4 separate regions of the Homo sapiens genome follow, and all the other regions are reported to be linked to region 4. The links are microRNA targets in miRTarBase. Many come from high-throughput screens and were not tested one by one. Region 4 holds a microRNA gene; each other region holds the end of a gene's coding sequence.
The links. Region 4 holds the annotated microRNA hsa-miR-367-5p (ACUGUUGCUAAUAUGCAACUCU, at 1,896-1,917, opposite strand). A microRNA usually pairs through its seed, bases 2 to 8, with sites in the 3' UTR of a target mRNA and lowers its output. Matches are read on the target gene's strand: a 7mer-m8 pairs with bases 2 to 8, a 7mer-A1 pairs with bases 2 to 7 and ends in A, and an 8mer does both.

Region 1 (3,135 bases), not on the chromosome of region 4:
ATTTTCCCTGAGGTTGGAAGTTGTGATGATGATAAATTGAGATTAAGTGAAAACGCTTTGAAGCGAAGATATCATGAATTCAGGAAATCTTGGATACTTGGAAAGATAATCAGGTAATGAGAGAAAAGTCAGAGACTTACTGTGACAAAGCCTCACTGCTTTGTGATATGTCTCAAGATGAAGGCAGGCTACGTCCTGGGAAACATTTTGTTATCAGACATGCTGCTGTTAACACAATGTATATGGAAAGTTTGGTGTGAATGCAGTAGATTTAAGTTTTGCTAGTGTACTTTTTCCATGCTAATTGAAAATGGTCATGTTCCAACATGATTTCACCGCTTCGTTGTTTCTCTCCCATCCTTCTTTTAGTTGGCTGATTGCAATTCTGGCCCAACTCAACCCTCTCTTTGGACCGCAATTGAAAAATGAAACCATCTGGTATCTGAAGTATCATTGGCCTTGAGGAAGAAGACATGCTCTACAGTGCTCAGTCTTTGAGGTGACTATGCTTGTGACCTTTCTTATCAGTATGGTCAGGCAGTCAGAGTTTGCCTTGACTTTTTCTCACATTTTATGGCCATTTTAACACGTGGCAAGGGCAAGCTGCTGAATGCAAACACGATCTGAAGAGCAGAAATAAAATTGGAACTTAAGCCTTAGCTTACCTAAATCTCATTAAGATTCTTTTTAGATTCTGCTATCACCCTGCCTTTTTAAATAAATACAGTTTAATTTACAAAATTAAGCTTGCATGCACTCTTTCAGACGCAGATCAAAAAAGTAACTGTTTATACTTGGCATTGTGAGATCCAGCAACTTTAAAAAGTGGCTGGCAGATTTAAAATTGAGCAGGTTTCTTTCCAGCAGTAGTCAGCCATCCGGACAGAACCGTTCCTGTGATGGTGTTACACTGCTGGGAGAGGAATGTCTTGTCTTCATCCGGTTGCCTGCGCCACTGTTCTGGTGGCGTCTGGCACTGGTGCAAGACAGAGCTGTGCTTCCCCGAGAGTGTGCTAAGCATTCACTTTGGCTGCTTAGTTCTAGTCTGGGAGCAGACAGAGAAAACAAAATTAAGGTTTTTGAATGCTTTGGATGGAGAAAGGTGCCTGCGTCCGTTTGTTTTGTGTTGCTATAAAGGAATACATGAGACTGGGTAATTTATATTTGGCTCGCAGTTCTGCAGGCTGTATAAACATGACACCCGTATCTGTTTGGCTTCTGGTGAGGCCTCAGGAGGTTTTTACTTATGGCAGAAAGCAAAAGGGGGGCAGCCGTGTCATATGGCCAGAGAGGGAGCAAGAGAGAGAGAAGGAGGTGCCAGGCTCCTTTAAACAAGCAGCTCTTGTGTGCACTAACAACTACTTCACTCGTTACTATGGGGAGGTATATTAGCCCATTTTCACGCTGCTGATAAAGACATACCCAAGACTGGGTAATTTATAAAGAAAGAGAGGTTTAATGGACTCACAGTTCCTCGTGGCTGGGGAGGCCTCACAATAATGGCGGAGGATGAAAGGCAGTTCTTACATGGTAGCAGCAAGAGAGAATCAGAACCAAGCAAAAGGGGTCTCCCCTTATAAAACCATCAGATCTCGTGAGACTTATTCACTACCATGAGAACAGTATGGGGGAACTGCCCCCATGATTCAGTTATCTCCCACCAGGTCCCTCCCACAACACGTGGAAATTATGGAAGCTACAATTCAAGATGAGATTTGGGTGGGGACACAGCCAAACCATATCAGGAGGGTACCAAGCCATTCATGAGGAATCCACCCCCATGACCCAAACACCTCCCACCAGGCCCCACCTCCATCATTGGGGATCACATTTCAACATGAGATTTGGAGGGGACATATAATCCAAGCCATATCAGTGCCTTTTGAAAATCAGTCTTTGGTCGTGCGCGGTGGCTCACGCCTGTAATCCCAGCACTTTGGGAGGCTGAGGCAGGTGGATCACGAGGTCACGAGATCGAGACCACGGTGAAACCCATCTCTACTAAAAATACAAAAAATTAGCTGGGCACAGTGGTGGGCGCATGTAGTCCCAGCTACTCGGGAGGCTGAGGCAGGAGAATGGCTTGAACCCAGGAGGCAGAGCTTGCAGTGAGGCGAGATCGCGCCACTGCACTCCAGCCTGGGCGACAGAGCAAGACTCCGTCTCAGAAAAAGGAAAATCAGTCTTAAGGTTGCAGCTTCTATTTGTCCTGAGGGTCAGAGAGGTTAGTAGTGGTATAGTGGAAAGATTTATTCACTGGCCGAGAGTCAGGAAACCTCTTATTTAATCTGTTCGTTGTTTTCATTATTTTGTTAAATGGAAGTTAGCTTTAAATGCCTTGACTAGATTTAGGTTCAAGTTTTTTGGCTCTTTAGGTGTTACTGTAAACTGTGTATTGCCTCCCATCTGGAGAAACAGGATGTCTGGCTCTGGCTCTCCTATGTTTAGTAAGGCTGATGTGATCACTGGGTTCAGGTAATGACAGCCTGGTTCCTTCATTTGTAAAGTCCTTTTTATCAAGTGATTTTATCCATTGATGATCATAGCCTGAATTAATCATTTTAGTTGAAATGGCAAATGGTGATTTGCTGCTGCTGCTGTTTTTTGTTTTTGTTTTTGTTTTTAATTGAGACAGAATCTCATTCTTGTCACCTAGGCTGGAGTACAGTTGCACAATCACGGCTAACTGCAGTCTTGACCTCCTGGGATTAAGCAATCCTCCTGCCCCAGCCTCCCAAGTAGCTGGAATTACAGTCATGAGCCACCATACCCTAACTTTTTTGTTTTTGAAAGAGAGTCTCTGTCACCCAGCTGGAATGCAGTGGCACCATCATGGCTTACTGCAGCCTCACACTCCTGGCTCAAGTGATCCTCCTGCCTCAGCCTCCTGAGTAGCTGGGACTACAGGCACACACCACCGTGCCTGGCTAATTTTTAAATTTTGAATAGAGACAAGGTCTTACTATGTGGTCCATGTTTTGGCTAATTTTTAAAATTTTATTTATTTTTTATAGAGAGAGAGGGTCTCTTTCTATGGCCCAGGCTGGAGTGCAGTGGTGTGATCATAGCTCACTGCTGCCTTGAATTCCTGGGCTCCCGAGATCGACCTGTCTTAGCCTCCCTAACAGCTGCAGG
Region 2 (3,000 bases), not on the chromosome of region 4:
GTTGGGGAAAAAAGTCAAAAGAATATTTTGTGACATAAAAATCATATGAAATTATTTCGGTGTGCACAAATAAAGCATTAGAACAGAGCCTTACTCTTTTCATTTGCATATTGTCTACGGCTGCTTTCACACTACGATGGCAGAGTTGGATAGCTGCAACAGAAACTATAAGTCTCACAGTCTACAATATTTACTATCTGATCTTTTTTCACAAAACATTTGCTGAATCCTGGTCTAGATCCTAAATCTGGCCATGCCACTCTGCTTAGAATTCTTGTCACTCCCTGTGGCTCTCCACGAGCTGACCCCTGTCCACCTGTCCAGCCTCATCACCTGTGCCCCTAGTTGTCTGCCTGCTCTGGACAACCCTTACTCAACCATTCCCCCAGCCCTGTCTCCTGCTGTTTACCTTCTCTCAGCATGGGCCTCTTTCCTCCTCCAAATGGCAGCCTACCATCTCAAGCCTCAGCTCAAATGCTTCCTCCCATTTCACTTTCCCACACGTGTCCTGCTCTGACCCCCAGAGCTAACCCATTTCTACCGCAACTTCACAAAATATTCCTCTTAGGACTCTTCAGCTTTTAATAACCGATTAACAACCTGTTGGTGGCAGACTAGCCAATTCCACTGAGAACATCTGTTCACGTGTGTCCTCCCTGGATTACTAAATGTACGAAACCAGGCTGCTTCCCACAGCCCTGGCACAAGGCTGGCACAGGGTAGGCATGCAAATATTCACCAGAAGAGGCCTGGTTAGCATTCCACACCTTCTACTTGGCTAGTATTATGGAGGAAGATGTGTACATATTTTCTAGATACTAAGTATCATTTTTATGAACTTTGAGGATCAGGTACCTCCACGTGTATTACTCCTTTAATCTTCATAACCCTAATGAGGTCAGTGAAACTTTCATCGCATCAAGCGGCAAATTATGTGGCACAGCTAGAATCTGAAGTCAGGTCTCCTGCCTTTTGCTGATTCTGAGATACTCTCACACGTACTATTCACCCACTGAACCCACTGCTTGAAAGAGGTAACAGATGCTCATGGGCTTCCTGTTGTGTGTGGGGCCACTGACCTGCACTACATGGGTCCAGAGAGAGGTGGTTTTGTTTTGTGTCACTTCCCTCCAGTCACCTGTTCCTGCTGCTGTACCTGATCCCTTTTGAAGCAGACTGGGTAAGGACCAAAGGACAGCCCTGCTACAGGAGGAGGAGGATTGAGGAAAAAAAATGAAAAGAAATAAAAAAATGAAAACACCAAAAGGCAGCCCTATAAAGTTAAATTTTATAATTTAATTAAGTGCTTGTTTTTGTCACTCTACTTCTCAAGTCTCCTGCTACTGCTCTGGGGCTCATGGCTTGCTCTAGGGCAGAAGGAAGTTGCTGGAAGCCTGGCCTCCAGGCTGGAGGGGTGCCAATGCAAGGGTCACACTAATGGAACTATCAATGCACCTGCCTTAAAGGAGCCTGAAGAATGCCTCCAGTGGGCTGCTGGGCATAAGCCCTGGACTGTCCATATACTACTTGGAATATTCAAACAGAGTCCAGAGCTCAGAGGCAGGGAGAGCCAATAGGCTGCTGAAGGCCTAGGGAAAGCAACACAGGACAGTTGTCCATTTGAGACTCTTTCTCTATCAAAGAGGAGTTAGGGATATACTGGTCAGTTCAGAGACCACAGTGTGACCCTGGCAGAAGAACTTGCTCTCTATATTTCCTACCATCATGGGGGACGGCCAAACTGATTGTTACTGAACAGGTTCAGTGATGTGGTATGAGAAGTGCCAGGGACTTAAGGAAATAGAATTCTGTAAAGCAGCCTGACCCCCTTCTAGGTCTAGAACTGATCACATTGAAAATGCCAAAATAAGTTCAGCTAGATATACCTATGAGAGGTTTTGGCAAAAGACTTAGGTATGATGGCTGGGTTTAAGATAACATGTGTGATTCCGGATATGGTATACCAATTCATTATTTGGTATTTCAGACTAAAAAATTCATTTGTGCTCCTAAAGATTTTGATCAGTTTGGGTAAAGCAAGCAATGTCTGTCTGATGTTTCAGGCATTTTCAGGAGGACAAATAACTGGGACAACTGAGGCTATGACTTAGTGGCATAAAGTTGGTTTCAGGCTAAAAGTTTGGTTTGTCCAAATAAAGCCCAATAGTCCCTCAACTCTCAGAGCAATCACAGTGATGGTGTAAAGAGCCTCTTTGAATGCGTGATTGCATACCTAGTGACCATACAATCAGAGATCTGGTCATAATGAAACACTTTATACAGACAGGAATAGACAAGGGATTTCTGACACACTCATGCTTTGGATGTGTCAGTACAAGACAGTATGTGAGACTGTGATTCTGCCAGGCAGAGGGGAACGGGCATGATTTATCTGCTGGCAAATAAGTCTCCACTATACCTAATCATTCTTTTATCTAAGTGCATCATGATCTTCTTAGTCCTGGACGTCAAAATAGTCAATTATTGGCTCCTTGGTTATTTTCTGTAAATTACTGCTCCCAGGATTCCTGAAAAACAAACAAAGAATGATCAGTCTTTTCTTCTTTGGGGGAAACAGATACAGGACTTCAGAAAGTTAAGGATCAGCTGATTTACCATTTGTGAATCTTAAACATTTATTTTATTTTTATTTTAGTCTTACTTTTTTTCCTTCTGCCCTTTGTGAGCAATTTTTTTAACTTTTGTGTTTCCTTCTAGATTTACATATTACATGGGGAATTTTATTCTGTGAGATAACAAATTCTCTATTTACACTTTACAGTTTAGAGGTAACCTTTCACAATCTATTTACAGGATTTCATATATGATGATGATTTTACTCTGCCTTCACAGTTCAATGAATGCTCAGTTAACAGCTTAAGCCAAGCGAGCATCTCACTTGTGAAGTTTTGATAGTGGGACAAACATGAGCTGGTGATTTTGAAATTTGGTAATGGGCACATGGGCATTTATGATAGTAATACTATTCTCTCTACTCTA
Region 3 (3,000 bases), not on the chromosome of region 4:
ACACTGGTGGCTAGTAATGCTGCAGTGTTCAAATATTCAGTCTAAAACAGGCAAAACAATCTTCTAATTTTGTAACACTGGTGATTCCCCCCCTCTTCTGGGCAGAATCGGAGGTATAGAAAGGAATCTGAATTCTCCAGGGCAAAAAACACCCAATTAACACCCACCAGGATTCTGTTACTGAGACACTGGCATTACAATGCTGTTATGACAGGCAGTACGTGTTCCTCTCTCAGTGAGAAAAAGGGTATTAATTCGACTGGGCCATAGGAATGTGGCAAAAGTTTTTATACAACTGAAACAGTGGTTTCCCCGAGGCTTAGAAAAGCAAAGGAAAAACTGGAAGGGTCTGGCTGACCATTTTGCCATGTTTTCTCAGGTAAGAGTTGAAGACATTTGCAAGAATGCAACATCAAGACAAGCTTTAACTATACTCTGTTGATTGATACAAAATAGGATGAAAAACCATTGGATATTGGGACACGAGGAACTTGTTTAGCACAACCGATGTCATGTATACCACAGTTTTAACCATTAGGCCATTTCCACTGTAGCTTAGAAAAAAGAACCAGAGGACTGCCTTGGTAGAGCTGGATGCGCTGCTACAAGATGGCCTCACTGTACAGCCCTCAAACGTGAGGACTTCTTTCTCCATAGACACCAGATGGCCAATCAGTACTTTCTAGAGTTCTTTAACTACTTCAGAATGCAAGAACAGTACATACATACTCCAACAGCCATTGAAAGATTCACATTCATGGGAAAACACAAGTCTTGATGAAATCTTGACTTAAGCTCTCTTTTAAGAAACTGGTTGAAACTGGTGAAAAGTTCATTATGATTTGGACTTGATACCTGCCTCGGGCCAGAAGACCTACGTTGCATCAATTCTGAGTCAGTTGGAAGCTACGGAATTGTTGCTGACTCTACACATTTGAGTTTACAGAGCAGAGCCCGTCCCCTCCCTTCAAAGAGAAGGCAAATAAAGCACTCAAGAGATACTGGTCTCATTGACTATTTTCAACATAAAATGATTAATCAGGTTGGAAGCAAAAACATTACTGCTGCTTCTCAACCAGAGGATTAAGTGATCACACAGGACCCTTCTGCAGAGTGCAGGTTTTCTACCTGACGGTGAAGAAAGGAGGGAAGGACACTTCTTCTGCCCAAGGTCAACACACAAAATATTTGGTTTGAGATTTAAGACAGAAGGCACTTTTAACATTCTGATATCAGATGTTAACCATACAAACATCCTGTCACAATTTCATTTGGGTGTACTCAAATCCCCTTACAAAAGTCTTCTTACTGCATGTGTGTCATTATGAGAGCAGTGGCGACATGAGCAGATTTAGCCTTGAGATGTGTCTACCTGTTGCTATTCTCCCGATGAAGCAAACTGGGCAGCATGTCAGCCCTGAAGGTTACAAATCCAGTATTTGACTGCAAAACAATTAAATTAGACATCTGAGTGGTTAGTGCAGAAAGAAACAATTAGCAAGAACACTGGCTCCCACTCCGGAGCGATGGGGCTTGGACTGGTCTTTTCCATCATAATACTCTTTGCTTGACTGGCACCAACGTTAAGGAAAAATATCTGCATGAAAATTCAACTAGTGGAAGAAACTTTACCTAAAAATGCCATGTTTATATTTCCAGCTTTTCTCCAAAGAAAAATACCCATTTTCCCATCCTTAGTGTCTGAAGGCCTTGGACTTGAAGGTCTGGCCACATGACTCATTCTGTAAGGTTAACAACTGGCCCAGTTTTATGACTGAACACAAACTGGACTTGAACGTTCCAATTCAATTTTTTCCTTTCAGAAGAGGGAGATGAAAGGGAACCGACCACCCTATTATTATTTTTTTTGCCCTATTATTTGCTGCAACCACGGCTGCCAGTACTTTTCACAAGATGCTGTGTATAGGCTATTTTCACTATCTCCTCAGTCAACGCTGAGCTGACAGTTCTTCAGTGCTACACTCCAACTAAACTGTACAGTAAGTTCTGCAGAAATGGATCTAATATTTCTACCTTTATTTACAAATATCACAAATGGATTCTAGTTGAATCTACATGTTTAAATCCATCGGCTAAAAACATATTACATATTGTAAACATGGCAATATTTAATACAGTATCTATTCTAGAATATTTTCATGTCATGATCACATTTGTTATACCTGAAATTGAATTTATACACATTAAAGAATTACTAGCAATGGTTGCTCACTTTACAATTGAGGGCAGGGGGCTAGGGCTACATTTTATCATTTCAGAAACACTTCAAAGTAAAGTTAAAGCTTGTCTTTGATTGGCTCGGCGTATCCTTTTTGTATCCATATTTAAAATGAAGACTGACACAGAAAATAGCGAGGGCCCCTTCTAATTTACCGGATTTTTAAAAATCAGTTTGAGATTCTTAGGGAAAGTGTCTGTTGTGAATAATAATAATAATAATAATAATAAAAACCTGCTGCAAAATAAACTGAATGGAAAGGGGCTTGAGACTGTTAGGGTGGAGTCTGTCGGGCGTCAGTCCTGCTTGGGTTGCAGCTGCCGCTTCCAGGCCTCGTTCAAGTAAACTAGTCGTTTGTAGTTGATAATGAGAAGAAGGAAGTTCAGCACGTACGTGACGATGCAGATGATGCAGAACTCCTTCAGCACAAAGTACAGAATGTAGGCCAGGTACAGGGACCCCACGACCGACATGATGGAGGACGTCATGAGGATCAAAGCCGCCACAGCGCTTGCTGTCATGCCTGTAAGAGAAGAGACGCAGGCTCAGTCAGGCCTTGGTGCTGGAGAGAGGCTTTCTGAGTGACAAGGAATAACACTGTGTGACTTGCTGCAGTGTTTGAATACTGATCTTCCTGCCAACTCTGAAAATTGAGAACAGAAATACTGCTCTGTTTTGTTAAAATTATACAGGTTGACTCTGCAGTTGATAATGCCAGGTTTTGGGGTTTTTGAGATGGAGTCTCACTCTACCGCCCAGGC
Region 4 (3,000 bases):
GTCTCTTTCTCCCAGGCTGGAGTGATCTCAGCTCACTGCAACCTCTGCCTCCTGGGTTCAAGCGATTCTCCTACCTCACTCTCGAGTAGCTGGGATTACAGGCGTGCACCACTACACCCAGCTAATTCTTTGTATTTTTAGTAGAGATGGGGTTTCACTATGTTGGCCAGGCTGGTCTTGAACTCCCCCATCCACCCGCCTTGGCCTCCCAAAGTACTAGGATTACAGGCATGAGCCACCGAGCCTGAGGGCCTGAGGGGCAGGTTAAATTGTACCAAATTGAATTAATCCTGCTGATACACTAACATATTAACTTTTTCATTTTCTTTAGATGTTGATATATCACTACTTGTGTCTTTTAACAAAATGAAAAAATTGACTACTGATGGGAAGTTAATTGCCAGAGCATTGAGAAGTTCAGCTGTTGTAGAGGTAAGAATCAAGAATAACTACTGTTTATATTTATAGTTTATAATTATAAAGAATGTTAACGTAATGATTATTATATGATTATAGCTTACAATTATAAATAATATTAGTTTTATTAATGTAATATACTATTTTAAAGCTTGATTTGGAAGGCACCAGAATCCGGAGGAAAAAACCTCTGGGGGAAAGACCAAAGGATGAGGATGAACGCACAGTGTATGTGGTAAGCTTAAGAACCCGGGTCCCCAGTCAGAAACTGGCACAGAAACAATATAATTAAGTTAAAAATTTATTGACATTCTGATTGTGAAAAACTCTAATATTGCTTTTAATTTATAATAGGAGTTACTTCCCAAAAATGTTAATCACAGCTGGATTGAAAGAGTATTTGGGAAATGTGGCAATGTTGTTTATATAAGTATACCACATTATAAGTCTACTGGAGATCCAAAGGGATTTGCGTTTGTGGAATTTGAAACAAAAGAACAAGCAGCAAAAGCAATTGAGGTAAGTCCAGATCCTAAAAAAAAAAAAAGAAAGAAAAGAAAACAAGTATTAAAATAGTAACTTTTGCAATCATTTCAGTTTCTTAACAACCCACCAGAAGAAGCACCAAGAAAACCTGGCATATTTCCTAAAACAGTGAAAAATAAGCCCATTCCAGCCTTAAGAGTTGTGGGTGAGTATTTTTCAATATTTAAATAGGTGTAGTTGAAGTAAGATGAACTAATAATGATGGCACTTTTACAGAAGAGAAGAAAAAGAAAAAGAAGAAGAAAGGCCGAATGAAAAAGGAAGACAATATCCAAGCCAAAGAAGAAAACATGGACACAAGCAACACCAGCATCAGTAAAATGAAAAGATCCAGACCCACATCTGAGGGCTCTGACATTGAGTCCACTGAACCCCAAAAGCAGTGCTCAAAGAAAAAGAAAAAACGGGACAGAGTTGAAGCATCTAGCTTACCTGAAGTCAGAACAGGGAAGAGGAAGAGAAGCAGCTCTGAAGATGCAGAATCCCTAGCTCCCCGATCAAAAGTAAAGAAAATTATTCAGAAAGACATCATTAAGGAAGCATCAGAAGCTTCCAAGGAAAATAGAGGTAAAACTACAAGGTTTTAATTAGATAAAACTAATTAATTTTAATTAATTAGTTTTTAATTAATTAGGTTTTAATTGGCTTCTGTTTCACCCATTTCACAGCCCCATGTCTTAACGGAGAGCTTTTTTATTTATTTCAAGATATAGAAATCTCTACTGAAGAGGAAAAGGATACTGGAGATCTAAAAGATAGCTCTCTCTTGAAAACAAAAAGGAAACATAAGAAAAAACATAAAGAGAGACATAAAATGGGAGAAGAAGTTATACCATTAAGAGTGCTATCAAAGTAAGTCTGTGGTTTAAATTCTGTCATTGGCTTAACAATCCATCACCATTGCTAAAGTGCAATTCCAATTTATATTCAACAGAGTTGCATATTAGCAACAGTAATGGCCTGTAGCCAAGAACTGCACACAGTGTGGGCGTTAACGCAATTGCTGATTAGGTAGGAACCACCACACTCAAACATGGAAGCACTTATTTTTGTCATGTCACAGCAAGTGCCTCCATGTTAAAGTAGAGGGGGCCCCTTAACAGATGTAAAAATACAAAATAAAGCTTAAATATATGAGCTGCGGTCAATACAATAAAGTTATTTTCTAAAAAAATAATAAAAATGTAAAAGGAAGACTTACCATCACCAAAACATGGAAGCACTTACTTCTTTAGTTTCAAAGCAAGTACATCCACGTTTAAGTGGTGGGGAGCCCAGTCTTGGAAAAAGTTAGAATCCTTTAACCTGTAACAAGCTTAGTAACCTTAAAACACAATAACAAAAAAATTTTGTAACAAAAGGTGTGCTGGCTTGGAGACACCTCCACTGAAACATGGAAGCACTTACTTTTGTTTCACACAGCAGGTACCCCCATGTTAAAGCAAAGGGGATCCCTTCAAATGAGGTTAGCGTGTTCTATTTTGGAGAAGTAAATTGGATTCACTCCTACTAAAACATGGAAGCACTTACTTTTAAAGTCACAGAAAGCACTTCCATGTTAAAGTTGAAGGGAGCCCACCCAACATACAACTTCTTTGGACTTCAGAGTATTTAGAGCTGAGGAGAAAGAAAACAAAATGGCATAACTTTAGAAGAAAAAAATTTTTTTACCTTCCTGAACTAGTTCCCAAAGATTCGTGTTCTCCTCCAGAAGGGTAAAAGGCAGGGACTTCAGCCACTTCTATTTATACTATTCTTAACTCTTGAATTCCTTTTGCCTTTTTATCTCAGAGAATCATTACAAGGGCCTTTTGTTATTTTAATGTATCAGCTCTCAGGGAATGTATGATCCTGGGTGGGTCTGGATCCTTTTTTTTTTTTTTGAAGTATACAGATGTCAATGTTAACAGCTAAAACCATTACCACAAGATATCTTCCTCTTAAAAAAAAAAAAGAAAAAGAAAAAGAAAATCTCCTATCTGCTTGTTTGATGGCATAGATTAGGGTAACAATGAGTGCTCCCACTGAGCCGAGAAA

Region 1: the mRNA of ATP6V0E1 is a reported target of hsa-miR-367-5p. The part of its 3' UTR that is shown has no 7-base or 8-base seed match.
Region 2: the mRNA of NFX1 is a reported target of hsa-miR-367-5p. The part of its 3' UTR that is shown has no 7-base or 8-base seed match.
Region 3: miRTarBase lists VKORC1L1 as a target of hsa-miR-367-5p. Seed matches in the 3' UTR shown: 7mer-A1 at 2,435-2,441, 7mer-m8 at 1,373-1,379 and 7mer-A1 at 435-441.

What each region holds. Positions count from the first base shown.
Region 1 is chr5:173,019,869-173,023,003 of GRCh38, forward strand. ATP6V0E1 (ATPase H+ transporting V0 subunit e1) reads left to right here. Exons shown (of 4, transcript NM_003945.4): 3 at 370-499. The coding sequence ends at 463. SNORA74B (small nucleolar RNA, H/ACA box 74B) reads left to right here and starts at 858; the gene lies at 858-1,061. RefSeq lists a silencer at 358-652.
Region 2 is chr9:33,369,434-33,372,433 of GRCh38, reverse strand. It overlaps NFX1 (nuclear transcription factor, X-box binding 1), which reads right to left. Exons shown (of 24, transcript NM_002504.6): 24 at 1,277-2,528. The coding sequence ends at 2,456. Among named protein-coding and RNA genes, the nearest start is that of AQP7, 32 kb to the left of the region's middle.
Region 3 is chr7:65,953,836-65,956,835 of GRCh38, reverse strand. It overlaps VKORC1L1 (vitamin K epoxide reductase complex subunit 1L1), which reads right to left. Exons shown (of 3, transcript NM_173517.6): 3 at 1-2,762. The coding sequence ends at 2,536. Among named protein-coding and RNA genes, the nearest start is that of GUSB, 27 kb to the left of the region's middle.
Region 4 is chr4:112,646,020-112,649,019 of GRCh38, forward strand. It overlaps MIR367 (microRNA 367), which reads right to left and starts at 1,922; the gene lies at 1,855-1,922. LARP7 (La ribonucleoprotein 7, transcriptional regulator) reads left to right here. Exons shown (of 13, transcript NM_016648.4): 3 at 332-432; 4 at 569-652; 5 at 772-936; 6 at 1,015-1,108; 7 at 1,180-1,530; 8 at 1,671-1,815. It overlaps MIR302CHG (miR-302/367 cluster host gene), which reads right to left. Exons shown (of 3, transcript NR_146092.1): 2 at 2,494-2,580; 3 at 701-949. MIR302D (microRNA 302d) reads right to left here and starts at 2,052; the gene lies at 1,985-2,052. It also overlaps MIR302A, MIR302C and MIR302B. RefSeq lists an enhancer at 2,852-3,000.